Linked DNA regions of Homo sapiens. The protein of the gene in region 2 purifies or fractionates together with the protein of the main gene of each other region. This does not show direct contact. Each region holds a gene or a part of one and is shown on either strand. Other genes may lie near its edges.

The links.
Region 1: the proteins of CYS1 (region 2) and RTEL1 purify together in Homo sapiens (affinity purification with mass spectrometry; one large-scale study listed by BioGRID and IntAct). This does not show direct contact.
Region 3: the proteins of CYS1 (region 2) and DPY19L1 purify together in Homo sapiens (affinity purification with mass spectrometry; one large-scale study listed by BioGRID and IntAct). This does not show direct contact.
Region 4: the proteins of CYS1 (region 2) and SAR1B purify together in Homo sapiens (affinity purification with mass spectrometry; one large-scale study listed by BioGRID and IntAct). This does not show direct contact.

What each region holds. Positions count from the first base shown.
Region 1 is NC_000020.11:63,658,090-63,665,075, forward strand, and holds the start of RTEL1 (regulator of telomere elongation helicase 1), read left to right. Parts: upstream 1-222; 5' UTR 223-377; intron 378-1,143; 5' UTR 1,144-1,313; coding exon 1,314-1,415; intron 1,416-3,208; coding exon 3,209-3,407; intron 3,408-3,760; coding exon 3,761-3,854; intron 3,855-4,384; coding exon of another isoform or gene 4,385-4,456; coding exon 4,457-4,538; intron 4,539-4,739; coding exon 4,740-4,800; intron 4,801-6,986. UniProt on the Homo sapiens protein: A probable ATP-dependent DNA helicase implicated in telomere-length regulation, DNA repair and the maintenance of genomic stability. Acts as an anti-recombinase to counteract toxic recombination and limit crossover during meiosis.
Region 2 is NC_000002.12:10,075,151-10,083,785, reverse strand, and holds the start of CYS1 (cystin-1), read left to right. Parts: upstream 1-3,374; 5' UTR 3,375-3,562; coding exon 3,563-3,880; intron 3,881-8,635.
Region 3 is NC_000007.14:34,937,445-34,945,355, reverse strand, and holds part of DPY19L1 (protein C-mannosyl-transferase DPY19L1), read left to right. Parts: intron 1-219; exon of another isoform or gene 220-310; intron 311-2,716; coding exon 2,717-2,741; intron 2,742-3,049; exon of another isoform or gene 3,050-3,130; intron 3,131-3,471; coding exon 3,472-3,591; intron 3,592-4,521; exon of another isoform or gene 4,522-4,596; intron 4,597-5,028; coding exon 5,029-5,203; intron 5,204-5,980; coding exon 5,981-6,080; intron 6,081-7,236; coding exon 7,237-7,362; intron 7,363-7,911. UniProt on the Homo sapiens protein: C-mannosyltransferase that mediates the C-mannosylation tryptophan residues on target proteins.
Region 4 is NC_000005.10:134,625,396-134,633,306, forward strand, and holds the start of SAR1B (small COPII coat GTPase SAR1B), read right to left. Parts: upstream 7,434-7,911; 5' UTR 7,333-7,433; intron 6,805-7,332; exon of another isoform or gene 6,682-6,804; intron 1-6,681. UniProt on the Homo sapiens protein: Small GTPase that cycles between an active GTP-bound and an inactive GDP-bound state and mainly functions in vesicle-mediated endoplasmic reticulum (ER) to Golgi transport.

The DNA.
Region 1 (6,986 bases), on a different chromosome or scaffold from region 2:
GAACGCAGACCCTGGTGGGGGAATGACATCAAGGGAGGAGACGGGCGGGACCCCAGATTTCTGCCTGTGGGCGATGGAAGTGAGGTTCACTGGCCAGCGGAGCCGGACACAGAACGCGCAAAACGCCGTGTAGGCCTGGAGGAGCCGAAGAGCAGGCGGACCCCCTCCGCGGGGGAACAGTTTCCGCCGGGAGCACAAAGCAACGGACCGGAAGTGGGGGGCGGAAGTGCAGTGGGCTCAGCGCCGACTGCGCGCCTCTGCCCGCGAAAACTCTGAGCTGGCTGACAGCTGGGGACGGGTGGCGGCCCTCGACTGGAGTCGGTTGAGTTCCTGAGGGACCCCGGTTCTGGAAGGTTCGCCGCGGAGACAAGTGAGCAGTGAGTCGCAGTGACCCTACAAGTGGTTCTTTTACCCGAGCGGCTCGTAGGCGCGTTGCGGTTTTTCGAAACTACAGCTCCCGGCAGGCCCCAAGCCGCCCTCGGGGCCGCGGGTCGGCGGATTGGCCGCGCTGCATTTTGGGACCTGTAGTTTCCTGCGCTCGTGGCGCTGGCGCCGCGGCGTTGGCTGAGCCCTTGACCGGGGCTGGAGGGAAGGGCCGACATTCAGTGTGTCCGCGTCTGTTCTGTTAGTCCCAGTTCCCGGGCGGGATTGAGGCTTAGAGAAGTTGAGTGATTTGCTGAGGGCTGCACGGGTTGGCATCCCGGCATGCTCTTTCGCTACTTTGGCTGCATCTGGTTGCCCACCCGGGCGGATGGGGAATGGACTCCAGCCAGCCAGGAGGGCAGAGGGCTGGAGAGGCAGGGCCGGAGGTTCAGACCCTCCGCTCTGACGTTGCGCCTGGTGAGGCCGGGAGGGGTGCCGCTTGCCTCTTCAGCCCTCACGCTCTTGTGGAAGTCGCGGAATTACTGCAGGCGGAACTTGCAGCACTGTGGGCGTCTTTTCCAGAGAAGGACGGAGTTGTGGGGCGGGAGGATAAGGCAAGGCCCAGCCACTTCGCATCTTCGCCCCGCCAGCTCCTCGAGATGGGATATACCAGGGTTGCTCTCCAACCCTCTCCGCAGGAGGGACTGATGGAAACGCCTGGGAAAGTAGCCCGGTACCCACAAAGGCTGTCTACAAACAGAGTCTTACTGTCTTTCCCAGGTCTGTGCCATAGGGATTCTCGAAGAGAACAGCGTTGTGTCCCAGTGCACATGCTCGCATCGCTTACCAGGAGTGCCCGAGACCCTAAGATGTTCGGAGTGGTTTTTTCGCACAGACCCGAATAGCCTGCCCCTCAGCCACGCTCTGTGCCCTTCTGAGAACAGGCTGATATGCCCAAGATAGTCCTGAATGGTGTGACCGTAGACTTCCCTTTCCAGCCCTACAAATGCCAACAGGAGTACATGACCAAGGTCCTGGAATGTCTGCAGCAGGTAGAGCACAGGCCCCGAGGAAAGGACTGCGGGTGGGTGGAGCTTCAGCCAGGACGGGGTGTGCTTCCCTCTCCCGGCCCATTCCAGCCAGGCCCCTCCGGGCCAGAGGCAGCGTCTGTCATAAAAAGGGCTGGTGTTCCAGGTGGGGTCAGAGAGAGGATTGACAAGTAAAAACGATCGTCCTTTGAAGGGGGCCGGCCCCTCCACACCTGTGGGTATTTCTCATCAGGCGGGACGAGAGACTGAGAAAATGAATAAGACACAGAGACAAAGTATAGAGAGAAAAGTGGGCCCAGGGGACCGGCGCTCAGCATACAGAGGACCTGCACCGGCACCAGTCTCTGAGTTTCCTCAGTATTCATTAATTACTATTTTCACTATCTCAGCAAGAGGAATGCGGCAGGACAGCAAGGTGATAGTGGGGAGAAGGTCAGCAAGAAAACGTGAGCAAAGGAATCTGGGTCACAAATAAGTTCAAGGGAAGGTACTATGCCTGGATGTGCACGTAGGCTAGTTTTATGCTTTTCTCCACCCAAACATCTCGGTGGAGTAAAGAGTAACAGAGCAGCATTGCTGCCAATATGTCTCGCCTCCTGCCACAGGGCGGCTTTTCTCCTATCTCAGAATTGAACAAATGTACAATCGGGTTTTATACCGAAACATTCAGTTCCCAGGGGCAGGCAGGAGACAGTGGCCTTCCTCTATCTCGACTGCAAGAGGCTTTCCTCTTTTACTAATCCTCAGCACAGACCCTTCACGGGTGTTGGGCTGGGGGACTGTCAGGTCTTTCCCATCCCACGAGGCCATATTTCAGACTATCACATGGAGAGAAACCTTGGGCAATACCCGGCTTTCCAGGGCAGAGGTCCCTGCGGCTTTCCGCAGTGCATCGTGCCCCTGGTTTATCGAGACTGGAGAATGGCGATGACTTTTACCAAGCATACTGCCTGTAAACATATTGTTAACAAGGCACGTTCTGCACAGCTCTAGATCCCTTAAACCTTGATTCCATACAACACATGTTTCTGTGAGCTCAAGGCTGGGGCAAAGTTACAGATTAACAGCATCTTAGGGCAAAGCAATTGTTCAGGGTACAGGTCAAAATGGAGTGTGTTATGTCTTCCCTTTCTACATAGACACAGTAACAGTCTGATCTCTCTTTTCCCTACAGTCCTTGAGGGTGACAGACTTAGGAGTGCCTTGGGGGCCTCTCTGAGGAGCAGCTGATATTCACGGGTCAGGAGGAAGCATTTCCATTAGAGGGGCAGCCGGTGGCCAGCCTCACTTGGAAGGTCTTTGAACCTCGGGGGTGCAGGGAGGTGGCAGTGGTGCAGGTTGCCTTCTCCTGGGTTCCTTGAGGTGCCCTCTTGTACCCGGCTCACACCCTTCCCCTCCCCGAGTTTCCTGCTCAGGTTCCCGTCTGAGAGCTTGTATGTAGGACGTCAGATAGGACAGCATAAATGTTTGGATCCAGAAACGCAGAACAGTTTCCTATTTTGAGACTTGACACCTAATTAGTCATCTTACTATTTAAGCTGAAAAATAGTGTCGTGTTTTGGGTAACGTTCTGCAAATCGTTTGCTAATGGCGGCTGAGTTGCTTCACGCCCTTTAGGGCAAGAGTGGGACTTGCCTGTGGACTTCTCCGCGGTCCCACAGGGCTCTCGCCACCTGGCAGTGGCCTCTGCATCTGCAAAGAGCTGCCCGCTGGCTGCCGAAGCTTGTCTCAGGGCAGCTTGTGTGGCCTCGCCTCTTCCTGGCTTCCCCGTAACCCTTGCTCCGAACTCCGTTCAGAAGGTGAATGGCATCCTGGAGAGCCCTACGGGTACAGGGAAGACGCTGTGCCTGCTGTGCACCACGCTGGCCTGGCGAGAACACCTCCGAGACGGCATCTCTGCCCGCAAGATTGCCGAGAGGGCGCAAGGAGAGCTTTTCCCGGATCGGGCCTTGTCATCCTGGGGCAACGCTGCTGCTGCTGCTGGAGACCCCATAGGTGACCCTAGTTCCCAGGCCTCTCCTGGCCTCCTGTGGGGATGGTTGGCAAGGGATGGCGCTGAGGGTGGGGTGGGCCCATGGGGACTCCTGCCGTCTCTCAAGCAGAACTCAAGGAGAATTTTTTAGCTGCTGTATAATTTCTCGCCATCGTGGGTGTAAACCTAGGGTTGGGCTTTTTTGCTGAATTAGGGCACGGCAGATGCCCACTTCACCCATTTTTGATAAACCAGTATCTGGGGTGTCAGATTCTTGGCTGTCTGCAGGGCCGAGTTAGCCGAATGCCACCTGCCTTTGATACGTGAGAACGTTGTCTGAGAACCGTGACTTCTGTGCTTGCTTGTGTCTGGTCAGCTTGCTACACGGACATCCCAAAGATTATTTACGCCTCCAGGACCCACTCGCAACTCACACAGGTCATCAACGAGCTTCGGAACACCTCCTACCGGTGGGTCAGACGAGTTTACACCTGTCTCGGGGTCCTCAAGAGAACCAGCTTGGCATGGTGCTGAGTCCACAGCCCCATGCTGTGCTGTGGTGGAGGGTGGTGGTCTTTCTAGACGCTCCCCCGAAGTGTGCAGAGCGCTGGTGCCCAGGGGTGGGGTGCGGCCTGGGCTGCCTCCAATGCCCATTACTTGTGAGGAAGCAGCTTTGCATCTGTGTGCTGACCTTGGGCGGGCGTCCTGAGCTCCTCGCAGGTGCTGTTGTAGCAGCTGTGCAGTAGGTCAGGGCTGGCCCCCAGTGCAGCTTTGCACATGAAGTAGGAGGAGGCCCTGCTGCTTGTCAGAGCCCAGCAGAGTCTTGGTGTTCTGTCGGGTTCCTGTGGCCGGACCAGTGGCAGGGTGCTGTGGAAGCTGTCGAATCTCCTCCCTCTGTCCAGTACCCCCGCTCGTCTTCTAGCTCCCTCCTACGCCCGGGCCACGTTTCAGTTATGCTCACTTCCTCTGACCGCCGAGGCTCCTGCGTGTCTCCATACAGCTCACGCTGCAGGGCCACGCTGTGGGTGTTGGAGACAGCTCCTCCTCGACCCACGGTGCTCTCTCCCACCAGGCCTAAGGTGTGTGTGCTGGGCTCCCGGGAGCAGCTGTGCATCCATCCTGAGGTGAAGAAACAAGAGAGTAACCATCTACAGGTAGGCTCCTGGGCTCCCGCTCCGGCTCAGTGTCCGACAGGCGAGTGCTGCTGGGTGTCCAGAGCCCCAGGCTGCGCTCCCGCTGGGCTAGGGTTTGAAGTTCACTGGGGGACTGCAGGGGAGGACCTGGTGGGGGTGGGGACTGGCTTCGGTCCTTTCTTGGCCGTGCTTCAGCTGCGCACTCTGCCCTTCCTCCCACAGATCCACTTGTGCCGTAAGAAGGTGGCAAGTCGCTCCTGTCATTTCTACAACAACGTAGAAGGTACAAGCAGCTGGGTGGGACCAGGGTCGGGTTGGAGTGTGTGCAGCCTCTCAGGGTGGAGCTCAGTGGTGTCACAGCCTGGTTGTGCTTGCCCGGTGGGGCGGCCAGTGCGGCCATGTACCTGGGCCCTGTCTTCTGACTCGGGGCCACCCATGTTAGACTTCTGTGTGGAAGAGCTCACACAGTGGTCTGAGACAGCCAGCCGGCAAGACTGCCTCTGGCTGGTGCCTGGGGCCTTGGATTTTGGGAAGGCTCCCTCCATTTCCTGATGAGAGGGTCTCCCTGCACCTAACCTGCTGGTGCAAACAGTAGGGGTTTTGCTGAACACCGGCTTTCTCTTCGGGGACTTTGTTGCTTGCCCAGCAGCAGGTGCTCCAGTGACCGGCCCTCATACCATCTTGGGAGGGTGTCCTGGAAGCCGTGTCTGGCCTCCCGCGACCCTGCCCCGTGTGTCTTTTTCCTGTGCTGACCTTGCTGCGGAAAATTATGGCCCTGAGTGTGACTCCAGGCTGAGTCCTGTGGGTCCAACACGGGATGCCTTGGGGCCTCTTCTGGAGACGGGATGTGAGTGACAGGAGCCGGCCGGGGCAGCTTGCCCTGTGACTGCACGTGGCCACAGCCTGTGAGGGCCGGGGGTGCTTCTCCACCCACGTGGCTGCCCCTCGGGTATGTCAAGGGCTTCTGGGGCTCATCACGGGGTCCTAGAGACAGTGGCAGGGTGCACCCCCGTTGGCTGCCCTTACAGTTTCTGTGACCTGAGGGTGGCATCTGTGCAGTCGGCGCGGTCTGTGCTTCTGTGGGATCAGGGTTCCCTCTGTTTCCTGCCTCAGTTGGGGCTCAAGCCTCAGGTGAGGTGGCCCCGGAGCACTCAGAAGGCATCGGCGGTCCTGTGGGCTGCTTTCTGCACTCACGTTTGCTGAGTGCTCAGTGTGCCAGGACTGAGGACCCTGAAGCTGCTCTTGTATTTAGGGCGGCGCTCCCCTGGCAGAGACTGAGCCAGGTGGTCCCGCATGACCCACTACCAGGCGTTTCTGGGCCCTGGCCCTTGGAGGGACAGGGTGGGCGGAACATGGGCCTGCAGGGAGGCTCCCGCTTACTGGAGGCATGTGCTGTGTTGCTGGAGACATCCTCTGTGTTGCTTCTTGTTCGCTGTGGTTTTTGGTCTGGTGGCACCAAGGACCCTCAGTCATCTTGATGTGTGGTTGTCCAGGCCTTTTTGTTGGTCCTAAGAAGGGGCTCTGCCTTTGTGCCCCCAGGTTCCCTGACAGGAGCTGCCGGCTCGTCCCGGTGATGCCTGCAGGACGTGACTCTGGGACGGGGGGTTGGGCAGATGTGCTGATGGAAATTCTCAAGCAGGCGTCATTTCCGAGGTCCTCACCTGGATTTCCAGGACAGGAGTGCCTGCTGGGTGTCCCCAGTCCCATGCAGCGGGGGTCCTTGGGATAGCATGGAACGCTGAGCATGGGCCTGGCCGGCCGTGGTCCTGGACAAGGGCAGTGCCCCGGTGGCTGCTGGGCCTGGGACCTGGTGGGGACGCTGGGCCTGGTACCTGGTGGGGATGCTGGGCCTGGGACCTGGTGGGGAGGCCTCTGACTGCCTCCTGGTGCTGCTTCCGTCTGTGTTAGGCCTCTGGGTATTGGGGCCCCCATCTGTCTCCTCCTCCAGGCCTGTGGACTCAGACCAGGAAGACACAGGCCAGCCCCTGCCTGTCCCCCTTGGCTTGGGCTCTCACTGCCCGACCTGGCGGGAGGTTGCCTAGCCGTGAACCTTCGCACCCTGTCTGCCACCGGACAGGCTGTGAGGGGGTGTCTGCAGCACCTGCACCGGCCTGAGCATCTTCAGAGTGGGCTGCAGCTCCTGGAGGGGTCTGAGAGGAAGGGAGGCAGGTATTTTGGGCGAATGAGGAGACAGCTGGAGAGCTGGCACCCTTCCTGGCCTGCGTCCTGTGAGGACTCTGGTTGGGGACAGCAAGCTTGGGGTCAGCCTGGGGCAGAGCCTCTGGGACGGCCCCGCCCCTCGTGCCCCTTCCCCTCGCAGCTCCTGTCCTCGCCCCGCCCTCAGCTCTCCGCCAGGCAAGGTTTGGCAAGTGCCGCTGTGCGGCAGTGCCTGCTGATTGGCTGGTCTGTTGCTATGGTGCTGCCCAGGGGTGTGCTTTTCCTCCCCTGCCTTCCCTGCTATCCCTGGGA
Region 2 (8,635 bases):
GGAACTGGCTTCATCTGCAGTAGATGCCTGGCTACTCCTGAAACCAAGGAAAACATCGTTCGGGCGCCCGAGTCCTTCCGAAAAGTATCACCAACTGTAGTCCTCTTCCAGGGTTTAATTTGTTTAAGGAAAGGAAGTTCTATTTTCCCAGAGTTAAGCAGAGAGTTCCCAAACTGGGCTTCACCTTCCACCCACCATCACCAGCACCCACGAGCACTATCACCGCATAAAAGAATCCTTCAGCTGCAGGTGTGACTGCCAGATATTTTCTTAAGAAGGATTACACCCCATTTCAGTTCTCCAATATTCCTGAGACGTTGCTAACTCTTTCGGACAAAAATTCTAGAGACGATCTTAGGGACATTAGTCATGCGGAAAGCTTTTAGGTTGTTTGCTTATTATGGGAAGCTTCTAATAAAATCAATCTGAGTTTTCAGCATATTTGATGGAAGCCAGGTCTACAAATGTAGCAGATTTTAAAATGTTCTCTCAAAGTGGAAAGAATGCTGGCTCTGGCATTCCTCCCGCTGAAGCGGAGCTAATGACAAGTTTTGGGAAACAGTGTTGGAATCAAGAGTGGCCAGAAAAATTGGTTGCCCTGGGAGGTGAACACAGGGAGCTGTGGATGTATTTAAACATGAGTCACATGACTAGCTTCTATTTAGGCAGAAGCAAAACATGTTTTCCTTTAAATCATTAAACTGAGTGAACTCAAGAAAAATCTCGTTTGCCTCTAAGTGTTGTTGTTCTTTGGGGTTTAAAGAGTTTCAAGATGAGATTTGTTTTCTTAAAAACTTATATCAATAGCTTCCAAACGAGACACATCTGTAGACTTAGCGCACCCAAATGACATCTGTGTTTGGCCCCACATCCTACACCTGGATGGTTAAGATGGCACATCAAAAAAAAGGGGGGGAGAGGCCAGGCACGGTAGCTTACGCCTGTAATCCCAGCACTTAGGGAGGCCAAGGCAGGTGGATTACCTGAGGTCAGGAGTTCAAAACCAGCCTGGCGAACATGGTGAAACCCTGTCTCTACTAAAAATACAAAAATTAGCCGGATGTGGTGGTGCGTGCCTGTAATCCCAGCTGCTCAGGAGCCTGAAGCAGAAGAATCACTTGAACCCGGGAGGCGGAGGTTGCAGTGAGCAGAGATCCGGCCACTGCACTACAGCCTGTGCAACAGAGCGAGACTCCGTCTCAAAAAAAAGGCAGGGGGGATCATAAATACTTCCCTTTAAAAAATTTTTTTTCTTTTCTTTTTGCTTTTTCTTTATTGTTTGTTGTTGTTGTTGTTTGTTTTGTTTTTTTTTTTTTTTGAGACGGAGTCTCTTTGGTTGCCCAGGCTGGAGTACAGTGGTGCGATCTCGGCTCACTGCAACCTCCGCCTAACGGGTTCAAGTGACTCCTGCCTCAGGCTCCCGAGCAGCTAGGACTACAGGTGCCCTTCACCATGCCCGGCTAATTTTTGTATTTGTAGTAGAGACAGGGTTTCATCCTATTGGCCAGGCTGGTCTCGAACTCCTGACCTGAAGTGATCCGCTCGCATCAGCCTCCTAAAGTGCTGGGATTACAGCCTCATTTTTTTTCTCTTCTTTTTCTTTTCCCTCTCTGTCTCACCTCTCTTCTCTCTCTCTTTTCTTTTCTTTCTTTCTTTTTTTTTTTTTGAGACAGAGTCCAGCTCTGTTGCCCAGGCTGGAGTGCAGTGGCGTGATCTCGGCTCACTGCAACCTCCACCTCCTGGGTTCAAGTGAGCATGCCCAGCTAATTTTTGTATTTTTAGTAGAGACAGTTTCACCATGTTGGCCAGGCTGGTCTCAAACTCCTCACCTAAAGTGATCTGCTCGCCTCAACCTCTGAAAGTGTTGGGATTACAGGCATGAGCCACCACGTCCAGCTAGATTATAAATACTTTCTTGTTCTTTTTTTTTTTTTTTTTTTTGAGACGAGCCTCACTCTGTCGCCCAGGCTGGAGTGCAGTGGCGCGATCTCGGCTCACTGCAACCTCCACCTCCCGGGTTCACGCCATTCTCCTGCCTCAGTCTCCTGAGTAGCTGGGACTACAGGCGCCCGCCACCACGCCCGGCTAATTTTTTGTATTTTTAGTAGAGACGGTGTTTCACCGTGTTAGCCAGGATGGTCTCGGTCTCTTGACCTCGTGATCCACCTGCCTCGGCTTCCCAAAGTGCTGGGATTACGGGCGTGAGCCACCGCGCCCGGCCTCTTGTTCTCTCTTAATAATAAAAATAAATGGATGTGAATCTGAGTCCCATTTTTATTCCATTTTCTTAGGCATATGTTTTTTAATGTCTACTCCTGAAGTGATAAAATAGTAGAATTTCAAGTCTGTGGTTGGGAAAGTTTAGCCGAAATTCCATTTTCACAATTATTCTGGAATCCAATCAATCAGGATAAAAGTTAATGTCAAGTCAAGATAGGTGAGTTAAACCCAGGACTTTTGAATTGCCCTGTCTTGGAAAGGCTGGAATTTAAAGTTGCAGGAGGTGGGCAAGGGAAGGAAGTAATCACATTTAAGTAAAACACAGAACCAACCAACAGGAAGGCTCGCTGGGTTTGAATTCGGCAGCTTTGGAGTGTTTTCTAGTCTGGGTTGTGGTTAGTTCACTTAAAAAGAAAAGCGGTTAAGGGAAAAAAAAAAAAAATCCGAGACCAAAAGCTAGACTTATGACCACCACCTAGGTATTTCCTTTTGCTTCTTTCCTGTGGCGGGGGGAGGGCGAGGTGGGGGTTGCTTTGCCTTTCTCCTTCATTTTCAAAGTTTTTCTTTCCCAAAAGTAGTGACTATTTGGAGGTTTTGATGAGGCTCAACCTTCACACATCCAGTCTCCGCTGGGGCAACAGAGGGAAGGAGAAGGCCGGAGGGGGCTGTTGGTGCCCGGAGGATCGCCCCTTCCCTCCCGGGGCGTCTCAGGCCTGGCGGACACTGAAAGGTCGGGGCGCACTGACGGCCGGACCTCGCGAACGCAGCGCGCGCAGCCCTCAGGGTCTTTCCCCCGCCCACCCCGCGCATCGCTAGGGGGCTCAGGCTTTGGGAAGTCCCCCCAAGCTCCCGCGGCCTCCCACGGGCCCGGCGAGCGTCGTCTGGGGAGCGTTTCCATAAATGAACAAACTCAGCCGGGCCCCCCGCAGGGTTCAGCAATTCCAGAAGGCCGGGACAGGGCTGACCCGACGGCGGGGAGCGAGGGGACCCGTGGGCGGGAGTGGGGGGACTGTAGGGGGAGACCCGGGAGGGGAGGCCGCGCCCGCACCCGGTGCTCCTCGCCGGGGTCTCGGGCCCGCCCCTCCCTAGGGCCGGTGTGCGCCCCCTCGGGACGCCTATGCAGCCCTGCCTCGCCCGCCCCTCCCCAGGCTCCGGCTCGCACCCCCGTCCTCCGGCCGCGACCCCCGCCCGGGAACCCTAGCCCCTGGCCGCGGTCGCTTCCCGGACCTCGCCCCGCGCCTCCCCCTGCAGCCCGCCCCGGCCGCACCCCCTAGCGTCCCCGCCCCCGGCCGCGCCCCCTCATGGGGGCCCCCTCGGCGGTCCGGGAGGCGGCGGGCGCGCCATGGGCAGCGGCAGCAGCCGGAGCAGCCGGACTCTGAGGCGGCGGCGCAGCCCCGAGAGCCTCCCCGCGGGGCCCGGAGCGGCAGCCCTGGAGGGCGGGACCCGCCGGCGGGTGCCGGTGGCGGCGGCCGAGGTCCCGGGGGCAGCCGCGGAGGAGGCGCCCGGCCGCGACCCCAGCCCCGTGGCGCCCCCCGACGGCAGGGACGAGACGCTGCGCCTGCTGGACGAGCTGCTGGCCGAGTCGGCGGCCTGGGGCCCCCCGGAGCCCGCCCCGCGCCGCCCAGCCCGGCTCCGACCCACCGCGGTCGCGGGGAGCGCGGTGAGTGTGGGAGCCGCAGGGCCTCGGGGGACGGCGGGGACCCCACTCACCGGCCGCGCGTCCCCGCCCCAGCCCTGGGCGCCGGTCGCGCTGCGCCCCCTTCCAGCCTCCGACTTGCGTGCTCCCCGCTGCCCCGGCCTCCCCGCCCCTGGGCCCCCAGGTTTCCTCCCTCTCTGCCCCGTCTCCGGGTCTGTGTCCAGGCGTGGGGGCGATCGCGCTGGGAGCGGCCGAGGAAGGACACCCCTAGGCGGAGCGCGCCGGGCTCCCGGCTCCCCTCGGGCCCGCGGCCCCGCCTGGCCTTCCCGGGCCGCCCTGGAGCGGGGCGCCGGCGGTGGTGGCACGGCAGCCAGACGGTGGCTCAGAAGCGCCCTGCCGCGCCCACCGGTCCAGATCCTTGCCTTGCTGGGCAGGCAATTCTCATGTTACTGATATTTTTAGGATGCTGCGGAATCTCTTTTGCGCTTCCTATTCTCTCTCCCTGAATACTCGTAATAACAGTCCTGCTGTTCTAAAAAAACAATAAAACAAGCACTCTGGTTTGGCAACCGTCTTCGCTCCAGCAGAGCTGAATGAACAAGATCTTTAACATCCGCTCCCGGGCTCGGGGAGGATGCCAAGGGCCTCGTCCTCCTCCCTGAGGCCCGGGAGGCTTTGCTTAGCAGCCGCTGGGAGCCGAGGAAGATGCCTTCCTGGGTGGCTACCGCACCAAGGAATCCTGAAAAGGCCCCAGGGAGGGTGGGGGAGAGGGACAGCCCCAGGCGACAGTGCACAGAGCTCTCTCCCTCTGGCCCTGGTTCCCTGCTCCTCTCCCTTACGGTCTTTAAAGAGGAAAAGCGAGCTGCAGTGAGTAGGGCTGAATTATATAACAAGATTCCTTTAATACCACATCAGCCTGCAGTTATATAACACTGCCTGGACAAATAGCTGAGAAATTTGGGAGGAATTCACACATAGCAAGGAGGCAGTTAATTTTAGTGTTCATTTTCAAGTGCTTTGGAAACTCGGAGGTGAAAATGAGAGGCAAATAGCAAGAGTGAATGTTGTGCCCTCTGATTTGCTGATATTATTCATCATGGTGACTGCTCGCTCTTTAAGTCATTTTCCAGCTATCCTTTGAGCACCGGTCCCGCTGTGGGTGCTAGGGATGAGGCCACACAGCATAGCCCTTGCCTTAAAGAAGTCTGCAGCTCGATGGGGGAAAGTAGAAAGCAGGGCGATGAGAGATCCGTATCAAAAGGCCACAGGAGAAAGCGGCTAATCCCAAGGGAGGCAGGTAGGCATTCCCGAAGGGATGAATTTGGAAGTTGTCCTGAATCTGGAAGGGTCTGTGGACGTGATCCAGGCAGCAAGTTCTGTGCAGAGAGAACCTCATGCCTAATGTCACTGGTGGCTGGGGCAGCTGGTGCCCAGGGCATGGGTCAGAGAGGTCTTAGGAGAGTATGCCAGGCTGCAGTGCGCCATGCCAAGGGTATTCCATGTTAGCGAGTTTGGGTTACTATGAAAGTTCTGGGTATCTGAAAGGTAAGGATTGTGACAGTTTGTGTTTTAGGAACGTCACACCGACAACTGTAGGGAGGATGAACTGGACAGAGTCAGACTAGGGATAACATGACCACCTGTGTGAGTGGGTGGGGGAGTCTGCAATGATCCAGGTGGCCGAGTCCTGAACCAAGGCAGTGGCGGTGAGAGGCTTGCAGAGGAGATGGTTTCAGGAATTGTTGAGGAGGTCAGCCAGCTGCAGTTGCCCTTCTGGGTGTGAACTGTGTGTATCTTTTTTCTTTCTTTCTTTTTTTTTTTTTTGAAACGGAGTTTCACTCTGTTGCCCAGGCTAGAGTCCAGTGGTGTGATCCCGGCTCACTGCAACCTGTGCCTCCCAGGTTCAAGCGATTCTCTTGCCTCAGCCTTCTGAGTATCTGGGATTACAGGTGCCTGCCACCACGCCCAATTTTTGTATTTTTAGAAGAGACGGGGTTTTGCCATGATGGCCAGGCTGGTTTCAAACTCCTGACCTCAGGTGACCCGCCCACCTTGGTCTCCGAAAGTGCTGGGATTATAGGCATGAGCCACCTCACCCAGCCGACTGTATGTATTTTCTGCACCATAAATATTTCTTGAATAAATGAATCCTAGAATCACAGATTATTCGAGGCGGAAGGGAGCCCTTGGGTCCAATTCATTATTTTCAGATAACGCCTGCATACTACAGATGTGCGCCACCACGGCCAGCTAATTTTTGTATTTTTAGCAGAAACAGGGTTTCACCATGTTGGCCAGGCTGGTCTTGAACTCCTGACCTCAGGTGATTCACCCGCCTTGACTTCCCAAAGTGCTGGGATTACAGGTGTGAGCCACTGCACCCGGCCAATAACACTACTTTTAGTTTCTTTAGGAAGAAAGGAGGAAAAGAAACCTTTAATAGCTTCATAACTGTCTAGCATTTTGGAGGAGAGACATATTCTTCATAAAAGAACATCAAACTCAAGTGAAAGTTATTCTTTTAAGCACTCACATTTAAAAATTTTGACCACTGTTGACTGGGAATGTCTTAGAGATGGTCTGTTTATCCCTGAATCATCATTCTGAATATTATGTTTTGTTTTTGTTTTTGTTTTTTGAGACAGAGTCTCGCTGGAGTGAAGAAAGGGGGAGTGAGGTGGCAGGCACAGAAGCTGGGGTTGTGCTGGGGGAGGGGAGCTTCTGCAGTCATCCAAGTGAGATGTGGGGTCATTTGGACCAGGTTGGCGGGCGGTGGTGAGGGGCGGTTGGCTTATGGACTCACTAGTGGGGTGACTGGGATGTGTGAGAAAGAAAGGAATCAAAGGTGAACCAGGAGTTCTTGGCCAGAGCAGCTGGAGGGATGTAGCTGCCGTGAACAGACACAGAAAATGTGGAAGGGGCAGGTTTGGGGTGTCATTAACCAGGAAGTTGGTTTTCAGTATGTTAAATTTGAGATGCCTGTCAGACATCCAAACAGAAATGTCAAGTGAGTAGATCTTTGTAAGAGTTTGGCATTCAGGGGAGAGGTCAGGTTTGGAGTTCGTTTAGAAGCCATTAGAACATGGGAGGATTTAAACCCATGAGATTAGATGGGATCACCAGTGACGATGCTGCCAGCGTGTGCTTAGGAAGCATGGATGGGCACCGGGCTCTGTCCTGGGAGCTTCGTGTATGTGAACTAACGTGGGACGAGGCCAGGGGTTGAGCACGCTGTTCAAAGGTTGAGGAGATAGAGGCATCCTAAAGAACAGCCAGTAAAGGGGAGAAAACCAAGAGAACATCCGGAAGCCAAGGGAGGAAGGTGCTTAGGACGGAGGGCGTGCTCAGCTGCTGGAAGTGCTGCTTGGTGGGATATATGCGGGAAGCCTGAGAGCTGGTGGTTGAATTGAGCCACTCGGGAGGTCTCAAGGTCCTTGGTGAGAGATGGGTCAGAGAGTGGTGGGAGGCGCCTTGGGCTGGAGTTCATGGAGAATAGGACACAAGGAGGGCGGTGCAGTCAGCTCTTGTAGGAAGGCTCTTTTTACAGCGCAGCAGTAGTGGATGGCGGTAGGGATGGTGCTGCTGGACCTGGAATTCACCAGAAAATCTTAGTCCCAGAATGGGCTGGATAAGAGGAGGTTTTGAGCATTAGATGCCCTCGTGAAATTTGAAGGAACCCTTGGAGAAGAAATTTTGGTTTAATCAAGTAGACATAGATTCAGTATTTTAATTTTAATTTTTATTTTATTTTTGAGATGGAATCTTGGTCTGTCGCCCAGGCTGGAGTGCATCGGCTCACTGCAACCTCTGCCTCCAGGATTCAAGCAATTCTCCTGTCTCAGCATCCCGAGTAGCTGGGACTATAGGAGCATGCCACCACGCCTGGCTAATTTTTTTGTATTTTTAGTAGAGATGGGGTTTCACTATATTAGTCAGGCTGTTCTTGAACTCCTGACCTCAGGTGGTCCCCCTGCCTTGGCCTCCCAAAGTGCTGGGATTACAGGTGTAAGTCACTGTGCCTAGCCAGATTCAGTATTTTTATTAGCAGGTGGTAATTCAGATTGTTTTCCTCCCTCTGCCTATAAACCTGGGTCACTCAAGGTCAAGGGAAGTACGTTATCTGAGAATTTTTCTGTTTTGCAAGAGAGTCTCGGGCAATAGTGTCCTCTCCTTAGGCTGAGGGACTCTGTCATCCACCATTTTTGGAAAGGTTCCATTTGCTGTAGCCATGGAGCATCCGGATAATTCTTTCTTGCCTGTTACCCCAGCCAGGACTTTACAGTAATCTTGGCATGCAGCTGCTATGGAACTCACGGTGTAAAGAGAGCAGTCACAGTGAGTGCCTGGCGGGACAGCACCTCCACAGAAGGACGTCAAGGTGATGGGTAACTTAATGGACTTGCAGCAAAACAAAGTCACTGTCCTGAAGACGGTGACTATCTGCCTGCGTTCAAGTCTGTAGCAAAGAACACAAATTTAAATGGCAATGAGTGATATTTCAATTGATCCAGGGGACAAGAAGAAAGGATGGTGCGGACCCCCAAAAAGCTCATAACCGTGTTGGGAAGGGGTGCGTAAATGCACGTTTGCAAGTTCCCGTGGAAGCATGTTGTAAAGGCATGCTCCAGTGCGTCTGCACACGTGGAGGCGTGGGAATCCCACCCGAGGCAGAAGTCTTCCAGTGGATCTGGTGTCTGAGTTGGTTCTAAAGGATCACTAATGTGTTCCAGCGGTTGACAAAGGGTGGAGCTTTCCATAAAGAGGAAACAATGTGTAGAA
Region 3 (7,911 bases), on a different chromosome or scaffold from region 2:
ACCAGTGGACTGCCTTTTTGGAAATGAGCAGGGAAATATAAAACTGGATTCATACCTCACTTTTTACAGAAAATAAATTTCAGATGAACCAGAGAATTATGTATAGGAAAAAAAAAACCCAAAATTAACCAAGAGGGTTTGTTTATAACCTGAGAGTTAGAGAGGCCTATAGCATGCTTGGTATTTTCCACCATCACACCCTTTGTCTTACTCTCTTACCATTTGTCACCCTTTGTACTTAAATGTTGATGTGTGACCCGTATCTCCTGAAGGGAGCGATCATTTTTGTTCAACAGTTTATATACAGTGCCTGCAAGATAGTAAAGGATAGTAGTTGAATGAGTATTTACATATGACTAATGAACATGAAAAGGTAGTCTTGATCCTATGGTAAAGCCATTCAGGTTAAAGTGAAGACCTTTTCACTTCTTATATTTCTAAAAATTAATAGTATATCCAATGCTTGCAAGAGTGGGAGGTAGTAGATGGGAGGGAAGTTTGGCAATACACAGTAAAACATATAGTGGGCCTGTCCTTTAGCCCTGCAGGTTCCACCAGTGCAAGTGTACCCTCTAGAGATGCTCACAGAAATACAGAGATGATGGGGAGAGATGCCTTTTGTAGTATTGTGTGTTATGTGAGAAATGGAAACATCCAAAATATCTACTATGATACATAGAGTGGAATGTTAGGCTATCTTTCTGGAAATAGGTCCAGTATACATTATTGAATTTTTAAAATTGCCAGTGTGTGTGTGTATAGGATAATTATACTTCTCTTTAAAATTTAGAGATTTTTATGTGTTTGTGCATAGAAATGATCCGGAAAGATAAATCCTGTAATTATTAAGAGTGGGATTAGAGGATGGAGTGAAGGTAGTTTTAACTCTACTTTTATTCTTTTGTGGGATTTTGGGGGGAGAAGGATTGTCGAATGTGTATGTATCTATATTTTCTTTTTTTTAATTTTTCTTTTTTTTTTTTTTTTTTTGAGACAGAGCCTCACTCTGTCACCCAGGCTGGAGGAGTGCAGTGGCACGATCTCGGCTCACTGCAACCTCCGCCTCCCGGGTTCAGGCGATTCGTCTGCCTCAGCCTCCTGAATAGCTAAGACTACAGGCGACCACCACCACGCCCAGCTAATTTTTGTATTTTTAGTAGAGACGGGGTTTCACCATATTGGCCAGGCTGGTCTTGAACTCATGAACTCGTGATCTGCCTGCCTTAGCCTCCCAAAGTGCTGGGATTATAGGCATGAGCCACTGCGCCTGGCCCTATATTTTATTTTATAATTTGAATATACACACCCTTGTATTATTCCCTCACCTCCAAGTCTCTGCCAACATAATGATAAATTATTGCACATACTCCTGAGAGAATCCTTGTTCTCATTTAGAAACAATTTACTGTAACATATACAGGTATATGTTTATACCTGTAACATTTGAGTTGAGGGCTAAGGGGGAAAGAAAAACGTTCTGGTTTACAATGCCGAAATTTTTCATTTGAGGTGAAATTATTTTTGAAGAGCTCAGGAAGAAGCTACAAAGTTTCAGCTGTAGTATGCAACTCTGGAAGAGGAAGGTGGAACTTCTCACAGAAACAAAGCTGTCCCTTCAAGAGTAATAACTCACCTATAGAAGTAATTATAGGAAACCATTGAGCTTCATGGAGTTGTCAGTTCAAATAGGATCAGAGCTCTTTTTTGGAAGAGGAGTGGCATGTTGACATTTTATTTTGCATAGCTACCAAAGCCAGTGTAAAAAGGAGAAGAGTAGGACATAAATTTTAACTATCAAAGACATGAATGCCAATATTCTCTTTACTCAAAGACCCAGGAAGTAAAGTGGGATAGAGACAGCATGATGTAGTAAAAAGTATATTGGCTCTGAAGTCAGTCAGAATATAGTCCTGGCTGCCACTTACTAGCTCTGTGATTCCTTTCCTTGGCTGTAAATTGGGGTAATAAATGGTTGTAGGATTAGAGTTAATGGAATGTACTAAGCATATTAACATTGTAAGTACTCAACAAATGGTAACTGATAGTTTTTACTTGGTGTGAAAGAAGAATAAAGAACTGTTTCATCTCCTTCACTAGCCCCTTATGTGTCCTGAGTTTGCTAATATATCAGTCTTTTTGAGGCTAGATTCTCAAATTAGATTATATGCTACCTGGATTAACAGTTTATTGATACACTTGTTCATTCATTAAAAATGTTGAGCTCTAAGTGTCAGGTATTACTCTAGGTCTTGGGAACATATCAGTGCTTAAGAAAGAGAAGGTGTGTGTTGTCAACTCACACATTTCTGTCTCTGACCCAGACTTCTCCCTTGAACTCAGATTTACACATATAACCACGTATTTGTTATCTCTACTTGGTTGCCTAGTGAAAATCTCAAAGGTTTTTTTCATTCCATGCTTTGCTGGGGTATCACCAGTGAGGGAGCTGGGACACCACCGTGTGCCTTTGTTGTCCTAATAAATACCCATGTAGTCAAATAGGATATAATACAACATTGTCATTCTTCATAAATTTTCTTAAAATAGTATAGCACCAGTTTTGGCATGTGACTTTTAGTTATTTTGATTTGCCTGTGTGTGTCCTGAGAGAATGTTATAGAAGTTGTAAAACTCCTGTTTGCAAGATGAAAATGCAAATATATGACGTAAGTGCTTCAATAATGAATTGATGGCAATATATTTTTTTCTGTTCCAGAAAACACCAGTTTGATCATGGAGAGGTAAAGACTTAATATGACTATAATTTTACTTATCTTAAAGTTGCATGCATTTGGACTTTCCTTTCTAGTTCCAGTTTCTAACTTTGTTGGCAATTGTCAGCAATCATCTTGAAAATAGCCTGTTATGTGTTTTTATGAGAATGCTATATGCAGATTCACTGACTATTCATTTGTTAAAATTAACTAGGAAACTCATATGTTCTGCTCTGATCATCTTTACACTAATGGCAGTTGATTTCTGGAGCCCATTTAGACATATGTATGAGGTGTCTATTGCATGATTGGAAATCACTTTCCTCTCTGCTCACCTTGCTTGAGGCCTCAGAGATGTGATTGGTTACTGCTCCCATCTCCTAGTTGTCCAGTCTGGTTTTGAGGGCAGTTCCAAGGTGGAGCCCTCAGATCTTGAGGCAGCAGTCATTTCTTTTACCACTGTCTTTTCTTGGTCTGATGGTAGCATCAAGGTTGATTAAAAAATGTGGGCTTTATTAACCACAGGTTTGACTCTGAGAATCACAGAAACACTTGCCTTAATGACTTTATAATTTTAGCCTTCCACTAAAATGGAACAGTTTGAAAGTGAATTTTAAGAATTGTTTTCGAAGTTTCAGAAACCTTAGTAGTATTTTTTGTTACTAAGGAGAACGTACCCCTTTCTGCATATTGCCAGTTTAGTATTCTTAAACTTCACAAACAGTAGGAGTAAAAAACATTTTCTTCTTTCTTTCAGCTGGTTTACCATGCATTGCAATTGTTAGCATATACAGCCCTTGGTATTTTAATTATGAGACTAAAACTCTTCTTGACACCACACATGTGTGTTATGGCATCACTGATCTGCTCAAGACAGGTAACATGTTATGTTGGAGTATAGCTACTATGATAATTTTAGCCTTTATTATTGAGTGGCCCTAAAATAATGAATTACAAAGTCTTTTAAGTGATTATAGTTAAAGCTCTTCATGGTTTTGTACTTATCTTTCTTAAAGGGTAAGGGCCAAAGCTGATCATTTTCTATCTTTCTAAAGATTTAAAATAGTTGTTGGTGTACAACTAATACCGATTTAGTACAGACTGAGTTCATGAGTGATTACTGCAGGTGCTGATAGAAAGCAGAGCTTAATTGTACAAATAATAACTTTTTTTGTTTTGACATTCATATCACAAAGAAATCTAATAATTTCAGGTTATAAGTGCTTGAAAATTATATGTTCTTTTTTTAGTATCAAACTTATTTTTTTTTCAGTTGGTGCAATTTGTGTGCACATTCTTGACTTGTGCTTTTTAAAATTTAGTTTAAGCCTTCCTTGGTGGTTTGCTGCTTATTTTTCCTGGATAGCTGCCTCCTTGTTCTGTATTCACAGATTTATGCTTCTCCATAGTGTCACCTTTCCATCAGTCAACCAGCCTAGGTACAACAGCAGCACCTCCCTTAGACGTAGCAGATAGTCACTAAGCACCTACACTGCGCACTCTAGGGATGGAGGAGAGAGTAGTAGACAGAAAAGTCAAAAGCCAGTGTTTATAAGCCCTCAAGAAACTTGAAATCTAGCTCTGTAGACATGTGGAGAAAGATCAAGAGAACAAAGTGTTGTTATGGAGTGTGGACTATTTGGATGTGGAAAAAATTAGCCAGCCTTGAGGTTCCCAATCAGTATGTTGTATTATGTTAGAAAGGCACTACTTTCTACCTTTCTGACCCCTTCAGGCTGGCACAGGAAAGGAGGCTGGTTGGAAGCCTTTAATCTTGAGTCTTATCCCACAGCATGACTGATGATATAGGTTGGTGCAAAAGTAATTGTGGATTTTGTCGTTAAAAATAGCAAAACCCGCAATTACTTTTGCACCAACCTAATAGAAAGTGTCACCCAGGGCAGGTTTTCCAAGTGTGGGGTTCCTGCTGGTCACACAGGACCTCACATTCAGGACCCTGAACTTGATTGAATGTTTGCTGCTGCTGTTTTGAACGTCTTAATTTTTTAACAAGAGACCCCACATTTTTGTTTTGTACTGGGCCTTGTAAATTGGTTGTGGCTTTACTTGAATCTGGGAGTAGTGAAAGCAGGTTGAGAAAAGAGCTTCCTACATTGTGTTCCACTTATATGAGGCTGATGGTAGAATCCTTTTGATCCCAAAGATTATTATTTTGGGGCTTTTTCTTTAGGATAATTAATCCTTTATTTGGGACTCTAGCAGAGGCCTTATTCTTCTCTGGGAAGAAGTTTTGCATAACAGATGCATACTACTTATACTAACAATTACCAATGTATTCTTAATTTGGTTTCAGCTATTTGGATGGCTCTTTTGCAAAGTACATCCTGGTGCTATTGTGTTTGCTATATTAGCAGCAATGTCAATACAAGGTTCAGCAAATCTGCAAACCCAGTGGAATATTGTAGGGGAGTTCAGCAATTTGCCCCAAGAAGAACTTATAGAATGGATCAAATATAGTACTAAACCAGGTAAAAAAAAAAAAAAGAAAAAAAAAGTCATATTATTTAGCTGTTTTTCCCACAATTTTATATACCACTGCAAACTCTTAAACCCTAGTTACTTCCACTGATCTCACTCTTTCTATGCAATGTTGCTTTTAGAATATCTAAAACAAAGGAGATATCAATCCTGTTTAAATGGTTTGCAGGGGAAATGTTATACATATGTTCTTAGTAATTTATTCTGCCATTTTTTATAGATTTTAATTTTTTCAAAATTTATTCACAGTCATAAATGCCACATTTAAAATAATTTTTCCTGTGCTTATTTTCTTAATGAATTTTTAATATTAGTCCTTCACATTCCTTCTTGAAATAAACTCATGGAATGTGACATTTTATTCATGTGTGGAAAGGGAGACTTTGTTGTCATCTGAGTATCAAATGATTGAATACTAAATCATCTTCCAGAACTCCTTGTTACTGTAAAGCTTTCCTAGTCCATTTGATACTTCTTTTTTAGATTCAGGAAAGATTTCTAAGATTTTTTCTTTAAAGAAAGAAAGAAATCTTTAATGATGAGATGATGAAGCTCTGTTTTCCAAGGAAAATAGTTTACCCAGGCCTGGCTGCCAACTGCTACTTTATCAGCCATCTGACTTCATGCTAGTTCTGCCATTGAATCTTGAAGTCATGAACCTGCTGGGCTTCCGCTCTGTTACCTGTGAAATAATTGATTTACACTTGAAGGAGACACCTTCTCGCCTTCACTGAGTGTCTTCCTGAGACATTCCTCTTGCCTTCCAGATGCAGTGTTTGCGGGTGCCATGCCCACGATGGCAAGTGTTAAGCTCTCTGCACTTCGGCCCATTGTGAATCATCCACATTATGAAGACGCAGGCTTGAGGTCAGTGCACAGTCTTGCATCATCAAAACAAACCTCCCATGCAAACAGACAGTGAGTGGAGGACACCAGCAAAGTAATAAGGAATGTTTCAAAAGGATATGATGAACTGAGGCTTATCGAGTCAGGGAGCAGAAAGCTGAAATAAGACCGCTAAGCTCTAAACAAATCCGTTAAAGCTTCACAGGGCAGGAAAGTGACAACTTTGGGGGCTCTCTTCTCTACCAGGCATATAAACGAAGTCATACTATAGCACTTTCCCACAGGTTAACAGGGCTCTAAAATGTCCAAGTCCTTTTCATCCTGTAACTCCCTGGGGAGTTTAGCTTAGAGTGTTTATTAAGGTTTTCTCATAGGTGATTTTTCTTGAGTTTGGAGAAGTCATTTGAAATAGAATCCCATTCAAAGAGGAGTTTATTCTGGTTTTCACCAGTATAGCCTGTTAGAATGATCTTGGGTGTTTTATGTTTTTTTAGATTTTTTTGAGACTTTAAAAAATAATTTAGAGATGTGTTGTCCAAATTTTTTTTTAAAAATTTAATTTTTCTTGCAGTTTCTAAGGCAGGTGAAGCTATTCATTTTCTAAGTGATTAGGTGAATCTTATTAGCATCTTCTTTTTCATAACAATGGCATGTACATTCACAAATAAGCTTTTTCATTAAAAAATCAATCTCATCAAGCTAATTTCCAGACCAATTTTGTTAAATAAGTTTAGTTTTTCTTAAATCTAGAAATAAAATGAAGAACCATTTAATGTGAATTATTGTTGATGTCTAAGTTGGGACTGTTGCAGCTTCACAGTAGTCCTATAGTTGTGTTTGTTGTAGTTCATCCCTGTTCACACACAGGGTACCTTACTCTTACATGTGATAGCGAAGTGAAGAATTTAAGACAAATAAATAAGTGAACAAACACAAAGAGACCAAGTTTGGGAATGTAGGGGTGTGTTAAAGGTCACCCTCTTCTCCACAACTTGTCCTCCTCCTGCCTTCTGCTTTTGACCTCACTGATGCCCCTTAGCGGGAACTTCCATGGGGAATTTCCTCCTGACTGGATTCTTCTTCATCGTCTTCTAGTCTAATTCAGTGCTTTCTTCCAAATGTGTTATTGTATCGTTTTAGTCTTGAAAATTTTATGCCCAATTATTTTTCTTTAAAGAGCCAGAACAAAAATAGTATACTCAATGTATAGTCGGAAAGCAGCCGAAGAAGTGAAGCGAGAACTGATAAAGTTAAAAGTGAACTATTACATTCTAGAAGAGTCATGGTGTGTAAGAAGATCCAAGTGAGTATCAACACAGTTAACATTTTATAATCATAAGACATGAAGGTTAATTCAAGCACATGGCACATGCTTTGCTGGTGGCGGGGGTGTGTATATAACATAAAGTATACATGGAAAAACTTCTTCTTTTTTTTTTAAACAGGCTCTCACTCTGTTGCCCAGGCTGGAGTGCACTGGCATGATCTGGGCTCACTGCAAGCTCCACTTAATTTTTGTATTTTTAGTGGAGATGGGGTTTTGCTGTGTTGACCAGGCTGGTCTCAAACTCCTGGCCTCAAGTGCTACTCCTGCCTTGGCCTCCCAAAGTGCTGGGAGTACAGGCGTGAGTCACCACGCCTGGCCTGAAAAAACTTTTTAGATAATGATTTGGAGACTTTCTTTTATAGTCTTTATAAATATCTTTTTTTTTTAAATAATGATTTGTATGTGTATACTACCTTAAAGAGATTTTATTGGCACTAGTTGATAATCTCCCAAATTGTTCATATTTGCCTTTGATGTTTTAAAAGAAACTTTTATTTAAAGTTGGATGTATTTTCTTTCAAAAGA
Region 4 (7,911 bases), on a different chromosome or scaffold from region 2:
TTTGAGAGTACTAGTGAGAGGGCTGTAGGGATCTGATCAGAAGTTCAAGTTGAGTGGACAAAGGTAAAGAAAGGTAGTATACAGAGATGGAGCGGTGATCAAAGGCAGGCTTCTCAACAGAACAGAATTGGGAAAATAGGGTAGAAAAAGTCTCTAAGCCAAAAACAGAAAAGGGTGAGAGAGGTGAAAGGAGTGCCAGAATTGTGCCAGCAAAGTGGAAGAGAATATAGGGGGTTCAAGAATTCAAGAGAAGTTCAGGGTTGGGTGGTGGCAAACTCCAAGGCCTGGCTCTGGCATGGACGATAAAGAAAAATGGAGGTGACAGATACTGGAAGCCAGGCTAGAGGGTACACTGTCCACATTGACAGGCAGTGTAATCACCTGGAAGACTGGAGGGCACTGATACAGACTGTGAATCAAGTGGCAAAGTCCTCACTGAAGATGATTGTTGGTAGGTGAGAGCTAAAGAATGGTGAAAAGCCTTGACAGAAAAAGGATTTTTTGCATAAGGATGGTACCAATTTGCTGTTGTAAAATTTGTCCCAAGAGAGATAATCTAAGAAGACACAAACTCTGCTTTGGAAGATAATAATATATATATTTCTTTAAAATTGTGGTTTCAGCCAGGCACAATGGCTCACACCTGTAATCCCAGGACTTTGGGAGGCTGAGGCGGGTGGATCACCTGAGGTCAGGAGTTCAAGATCAGCCTGGCCAACGTGGCAAAACCCCATCTCTACTAAAAATACAAAAATTAGCTGGGTGTGGTGGTGCACACCTGTAATCCCAGCTACCCAGGAGGCTGAGGCAGGGGAATCACTTGAACCCAGGAGGCAGAGGTTGCACTGAGCCGAGATCGAGCCACTGCACCACAGCCTGGGCCACAGAGCAAGACTCTGCCTCAAAAAAAAAAAAAAAAAAAAAAAAAAAAAAAATGTGGTTTCTAGGAACCTTAAAACAAACTAGGAGTAATTAGAAACAGAATTAACTGTTTTTTTATTGTTATTTTAAGTAGAAGTAAAAATGCCCAACTAAGAATAAAAGTTACTTAGCTGCAAACAGATACCTGAGCCCAGAAAACAGGTTACACAACACCATGAACACACTATTAAGACATGTGAAGAGCAAAGGTCAAGAACAAGGAAACATACACACGTCAGCAGATTTATTTATTGCACCAATACCAAACAGGAAAAGTCTCTCTGCAGATTAGAAAAGTGATCTACTCAAGTAACATGAAAACCAGTGCAAAGGATGTAATGGAACAGAATCTCAGATTACAAGTAACTTCTTAAAGCCTTGTTCCATTAAACTACATGGATGGCTCATTTAAATGAAATATCCTGGATAGATAAATCCATAGAGTAAGTATATTAGTGGTTGTCAGACTGAAGGAAGGAAAAATGGGGAATGATTGCTAATGGGTACTGGGTTTCTTCTTGGGATGATCACATGTTCTGGAATTAGATAGTGGTGATGTTTACACAACAATGTGACTATACTAAAAACACTTAATGTACAATTTTAAAAGGTCGATTTTATGGTATATCAACTATATCTCAAAAAAGCTATTATAGAAAAATTTTAAAAGCAAATTTTAAAAAGCTTATATGGCATTTAATATTTAAAACTGATTTACATGAGTAATTACACAAAACCATTTACTTTTTTTTTTGAGACAGAGTCTCGCCTGTCGCCCAGGATGGAGTGCACTGGCGCGATCTCCTCTCACTGTAAGCTCCACCTCCCAGGTTCACGCCATTCTCCTGCCTCAGCCTCCCGAGTAGCTGGGACTACAGGAGCCTGCCACCACGCCTGGCTAATTTTTTATATTTTTAGTAGCGACGGGGTTTCACCATGTTAGCCAGGATGGTCTCGATCTCCTGACCTCGTAATCCGCCCTCCTTGGCCTCCCAAAGTGTTGGGATTACAGGCGTGAGCCACCGCGCCCCGCCACTTTTTATTTTTTTGACAGAGTCTCCCTCTCACCCAGGGAGCGCCGTCTCTGCTCACTGCAACCTCAATCTCGGGGACTCAAGCAATCCTCCCACCTCAACCTCCTGAGTACCTGGGGGCTACAGGCATAGGCCACTATGCCTGGCTCATTTACTTTTTAAAACCGGCCGGGCGTGGTGGCTCACGCCTGTAATCCCAGCACTTTGGGAGGCCGAGGCGGGCGGATCACGAGGTCAGGAGATCGAGACCATCCTGACTAACACGGTGAAACCCCGTCTCTACCAAAAATACAGAAAAATTAGCCGGGCGTGGTAGTGGACGCCTGTAGTCCCAGCTGCTCGGGAGGCTGAGGCAGGAGAATGGCGTGAAACCAGGAGGCAGAGCTTGCAGTGAGCCGAGATTGCGCCACTGCACTCCAGCCTGGGCGACAGAGCGAGACTCCATCCCAAAAAATAAATAAATAAATAAATAAATAAATAAATAAATAAATAAAACCACACATTAAGGGCCGGGAGCAGTGGCTCACGCCTGTAATCCCAGCACTTTGGGAGGCCGAGGCGGGCAGATCACCTGAGTTCGGGAGTTCGAGACCAGCCTGACCAACATGGAGAAACCCCATCTCTACTAAAAATACAAAATTAGCCGGGCATGGTGGTGCATGCCTATAATCCCAGCTACTCAGGAGGCTGAGGCAGGAGAATCGCTCAAACCTGGGAGGCAGAGGTTGCAGTGAGCCGAGATCGTGCCACTGCACTGCACTCCAGCCGGGGTGACAGAGCAAGACTCCGTCTCAAAAAAAAAAGAAAAAAAATACATATTTAGTTTGTGACCAGCCTTGGCAACGTGGAAAAACCCCATTTCTATAAAAAATACAAAAATTAGCCAGATGTGATAGCATGCACTTGGTGACAGTGAGACCCTGCCTCAAAAAAATAAAATAAAAATAAAAAATACACATTAGTTCTCAGGGGTCCTGTAAAAAAAAAAAATACACATAAGATGACAAAATACAAATACCCAAAAAGTACTATTGGGAGAAAATAAGGGACCTAATAGTCTAAAGAGGCAAATATGACATCAGAGTATGATTGTAGAATCAATGCACTAATAACTTTGGGATGCAAAGCATGGTAATGCTATGGTGAAATGGGTGTAGTAACTGTCCTAGAATACAAATATCCAGGCTGAGCACAGTGGCTCATGTCTGTAATCCCTGCAGTTTGGGAGGCGAAGGCAGGAGGATCACCTGAGACCAGGAGTTAAAGACCAGCCTGAGCAACATAACAAGATCCCATCTCTAAAAAAAAAATTTTTTTTTTTTGAGACTAAGTCTCACTCTGTCGCCCAGGCTGGAGTGCAGTGGCACAATCTTGGCTCACTGCAACCTCCACCTCCTGGGTTCAAGCAATTCTCTGCCTCAGCCTCCCAAGTAGCAGGGATTACAGGCACCCACCACCAAGCCCAGCTAATTTTTTTGTATTTCTAGTAGGGACAGGGTTTCACCATCTTAGCCAGGCTGGTCTTGAACTCCTGACCTCGAGATCCACTCGCCTCGGTGTCCCAAAGTGCTGGGATTACAGATGTGAGCCACCATGCCCGGTACAAAAAATTTTTTAAATTACCTGGGTATGGTAGCAAGAAACTGTAGTCCCAGCTACTCAGGAGGCTGAGGCTGGAGGATTGCTTGAGCCCAAGAATTCAAGCAGTGAGCTATGATCACACCACTGCATTCCAACCTGGGCAACATAGTGAGACCCTGTCTTTAAAAAAAAAAAAAAAAGAAGGATGAACTGGGCATGATGGCTCATACCTGTAATCCCAGCACTTTGGGAGGCCAAGGTGGGGGGATCACTTGAACCCAGGAGTTTCAGACCAACCTGGGAAACATGGGAAGTCCCCATCTCTACAAAAAAAATACAAAAATAGGCCAGGTGCAGTGGCTCATGCCTGTAATCCCAGCACTTTGGGAGGCCGAGGTGGGGGGATCACTTGAACCCAGGAGTTTGAGACCAGACTGGGCAACATGGGAAGACCCCGTCTCTACAAAAGAAAAAATACAAAAATAGGCCAGGCACGGTGGCTCACCCCTGTAATCCCAGCACTTTGGGAGGCCGAGGCGGGCAGATCACGAGGTCAGGAGTTCAAGACCAGCCTGACTAACATGGTAAAACACCTTCTCTACTAAAAATACAAAAATTAGCTGGGCATGGTGGCGTGCACCTGTAATCCCAGCTACTCAGGAGGCTGAGGCAGGAGAATCGCTTGAACCTGGGAGGCAGAGGTTGCAGTGAGCCAAGATCGCGCCACTGCACTCCAGCCTGGGCGACAGAGCAAGACTCCATCTCAAAAAAACAAACAAACAAACAAACAAACAAAAAAAAACAATTAGCTGGGTGTGGTGGTAGGCACCTGTAGTTCCATCTACTCAGGAAGCTGAGGTATGAGAATTGCTTGAACCCGGGAGACGGAGGTTGCAGTGAGCCAAGATCGTGGCACTGCACTCCAGCCTAGGCAACAGGGCAACATTCTGTCTCAAAAAAAAAAAAAAGAAAAAAAAGAAAAAGAAAACGAAGGATAAAACCATGACAAATATAAATAGTAGAAAATTTTTAAGAGTGGCCAAGGTGAGGGCTGGGCACAGTGGCTCATATCTGTAATCTCAGCACTTTAGGAGGCCAAGGCAGGCAGATCACTTGAGGTCAGGAGTTCGAGACCAGCCTGGCCAACATAGTGAAACCCCGAGTTGGGATGAGTATTTAAAGTGAGCGAGCGTAGAAATACTATGCTCAGCCAAGTGAGTACTTAACGAAATGAGTGTAGAAGGCTGGGGGAGGTGGCTCACGCCTGTAATCCCAGCACTTTGGGAGGCTGAGGGGGGCGGATCACCTGAGGTTGGGAGTTCGAGACCAGCCTGACCAAAAAGGAAAAATCTTGTTTCTACTAAAAATACAAGATTAGCTGAGTGTGGTGGTGTATGCCTGTAATCCCAGCTACTCGGGAGGCTGAGGCAGGAGAATCGCTTGAACCCAGGAGGCAGAGGTTGCAGTGAGCTGGAGATCACGCCATTGCACTCCAGCCTGGGCAACAAGAGCGAAACTCTATCTCAAAAAAAAAAAAAAAAAAAAAAGTAAGTGTAGAAATACACCTATAGCAGGACACAGTGGCTCACGCCTGTAATCCAAGCACTTTAGGAGGCCAAGCCGGACAGATCACTTGAGTTCGGGAGTTCAAGACCAGCCTGGCCAACATGGTGAAACCCCATCTCTACTAAAAATACAAAAATCAGCAGGATGTGGTGGTGCATGCCTGTAATCCTAGCTACTTGAGAGGCTGAGGCAGGAGAATCACTTGAACCCTGGAGGTGGAGGTTGCAGTCAGCCTGGAGCCACTGCACTCCAGCCTGGGCGATAGAGCGAGACTCCGTCTCAAAAAAAAAAAAAAAGAAAAAAGAAAAGAAATACTAATATAGCATTCCAACTTGTAAGCTTCAAATGATGTGGCAATGATTTTCATTTCCTTTTCTATTTCTTTTTTTTTCTTTTTTTTTTTTTTTTTTTTTTTTTTTTAGCAACAATGTCTTTTTCTTTCACCCAGGCTGGAGTGCAGTGGCATGATCACAGGTCACTGTAGTCTTGACCTGGCTTCAAGCAAACCCCCCATCTCAGCAGCGAGTAGCTGGGACTACTGGCCTGCTAGCCAGGGCCCTGCACCCAGCAAATTTTTTTTTTTTTAATGTAGAGACTGGGTCTTGCTATGTTGCCCAGGCTGATTTTCATTTCTGTTAGACTCATCTTTTTTCTTAATTCTTGCTTGAATTTCTATTCCAGTACAATAATGCAAGTCAAAGGAAGGTTAAAATATACCTTATTTAAACTGCTAATCTTTGTAATTACTGACAGTGCATCTCTGACATTTCTAAAATGAAGACACCTTCCTTTTCTACAAACTCAGAAAATGCCAATGAACTATCTTAACATTTTTTAAGTTCAAAACATTTTGGTGACAGACACAAGTCTACTGAAAGGTATAATAGTAGATAATCATGTTGCTTTGCTATACTGGCACCACCATTTATTTGTCATCTGTAAAATGACAGCTAGTGCCTTACTCATAGTAGTCAATAAATGTTCCTTTTCTTTCCTTCTTTCATTGTTTCAATGTGACCTACTCTTCACTGATACTTTAACACGGAATATAGGACGTCTTCAAAGACACTTAGTAATATAGAGGCTGATGTAAGAACACACAAATAAATAATACTATGTTTAATTTTTCAAGTTAAAAGGACTTCTTCACCTCATTTTGTCCACTGTACCAAACACCTTAAATTGCTGACGAATTTGGTTCTTTCAGCTAACAATGTCAAAGTTTTAGCTGTTTTAAAACAAATCTTCTTGGAAAAGCTTCAACACCTTAAAAATCAGTACAGTGGCCCACTGAGGTGGCTCATGCCTTTAATCCCAGCACTTTGGGAGGCCGAGGCGAGCAGATCACCTGAGGTCAGGAGTTGGAGACCAGACTGGCCAACATAGAGAAATCCCATCTCTACTAAAAATAGAAAAGTTAGACCGGATGCGGTGGCTCACGCCTATAATCCCAGCACTTTGGGAGGCCGAGGCAGGCGGATCACGAGGTCAGGAGATAAGAGACCATCCTGGCTAACACGGTGAAACCCCATCTCTACTAAAAAATACAAAAAAATTAGCGGTGCGTGGTGGCGGGCACCTGTAGTCCCAGCTACTCGGGAGGCTGAGGCAGGAGAATGGCGTGAACCCGGGAGGCGGAGCTTGCAGTAAGCCGAGATCGTGCCACTTCACTCCAGCCTGGGCGACAAGAGGGAAACTCTGTCTCAAAACAACAACAAAAATTTAAAAAATTAAAACAAAAATCAGTACAGTTTTCTCAACAGTGTATCTTTTTTCCACTTAACTGGGACTTTGGGCTACGGAAAACGTTAACCAGTACTAGTAAGGAAGCTCAATTTGCCTCTACACTAATTGGGAGCGCTGAAAACACCAGGCCGTGTCACAGCCTCTTCAGCTGTCAGTGAGACCCGCCACCTTCACCTTACCAGGTAAGGAAACTGAGGCCCAGGGGAAGGAAGGGGCTTGCCTGCAGCCACCTCGTTCTTTCCTGAAAAGACCAAGCGTCTGACAGCAGCAGTGTTCTGCCTCGAGGGCTATCAGACGGCCCCGCGGAGCATGGATGAGACCTGTCCTCCCTCGCGCCGCCTAACCCCGGGGTGAAAAACAGGCGCCCCTTCACGCAGTGCCACAGGCAGGGACTCAGAGTAGGTCTTGGCCCTAAAAGTGCGCCTTCTAGGGGATCCATAGCTGCTGCCCACCGGTCCTCCCAGAAGGAGGGGCTGTCACTCACCTGCGACTGGAGGGAACGCAATCCCCTACTTGGCGTTGGCCGTACACCAGGAGACCGAACTGCAAAGCGCGATGGCTGCCGTGGCCCCAGTTCGCATCAGCCCCTTCCGGGCCGGCGGGTGCCTCACTAGCGACAGTCCGCAGGACCGCGTCGCCGAGCGCCCTAGGTTCCGCCTCCTGGCAGTCTTGCCGCCAATTCCCCAGTTGAGCGAGGCTGCTCGCAACCCCTAACACCGCCTGGGTCTCCCAGCCGCCTGGTCTCCCCACACCCGCCCGCCCGAAGGGATTTTAGGGGCCTGCGTGCCGAGAAAGGAACACCCCATGCCTCCCTAGGGGAAATTACTTTTGGCATTTTTTTTTTTTGAGACGTTGTCTCGCTCTGTCTCCCAGGCTGGGGTGCAGTGGCACGATCTCGGCTCACTGCAGCCTCCACCCCCTGGATTCAAGAGATTCTCCTACCTCAGCCTCCCCAGTAGCGGGGACTACAGGCACCCGCCACCACTGTCCGGCTAATTTTTTTTTTTTTTGAAACGGAGCCTCGATTTTGTCGCCCAGGCTGGAGTGCAATGGCGCGATCTCA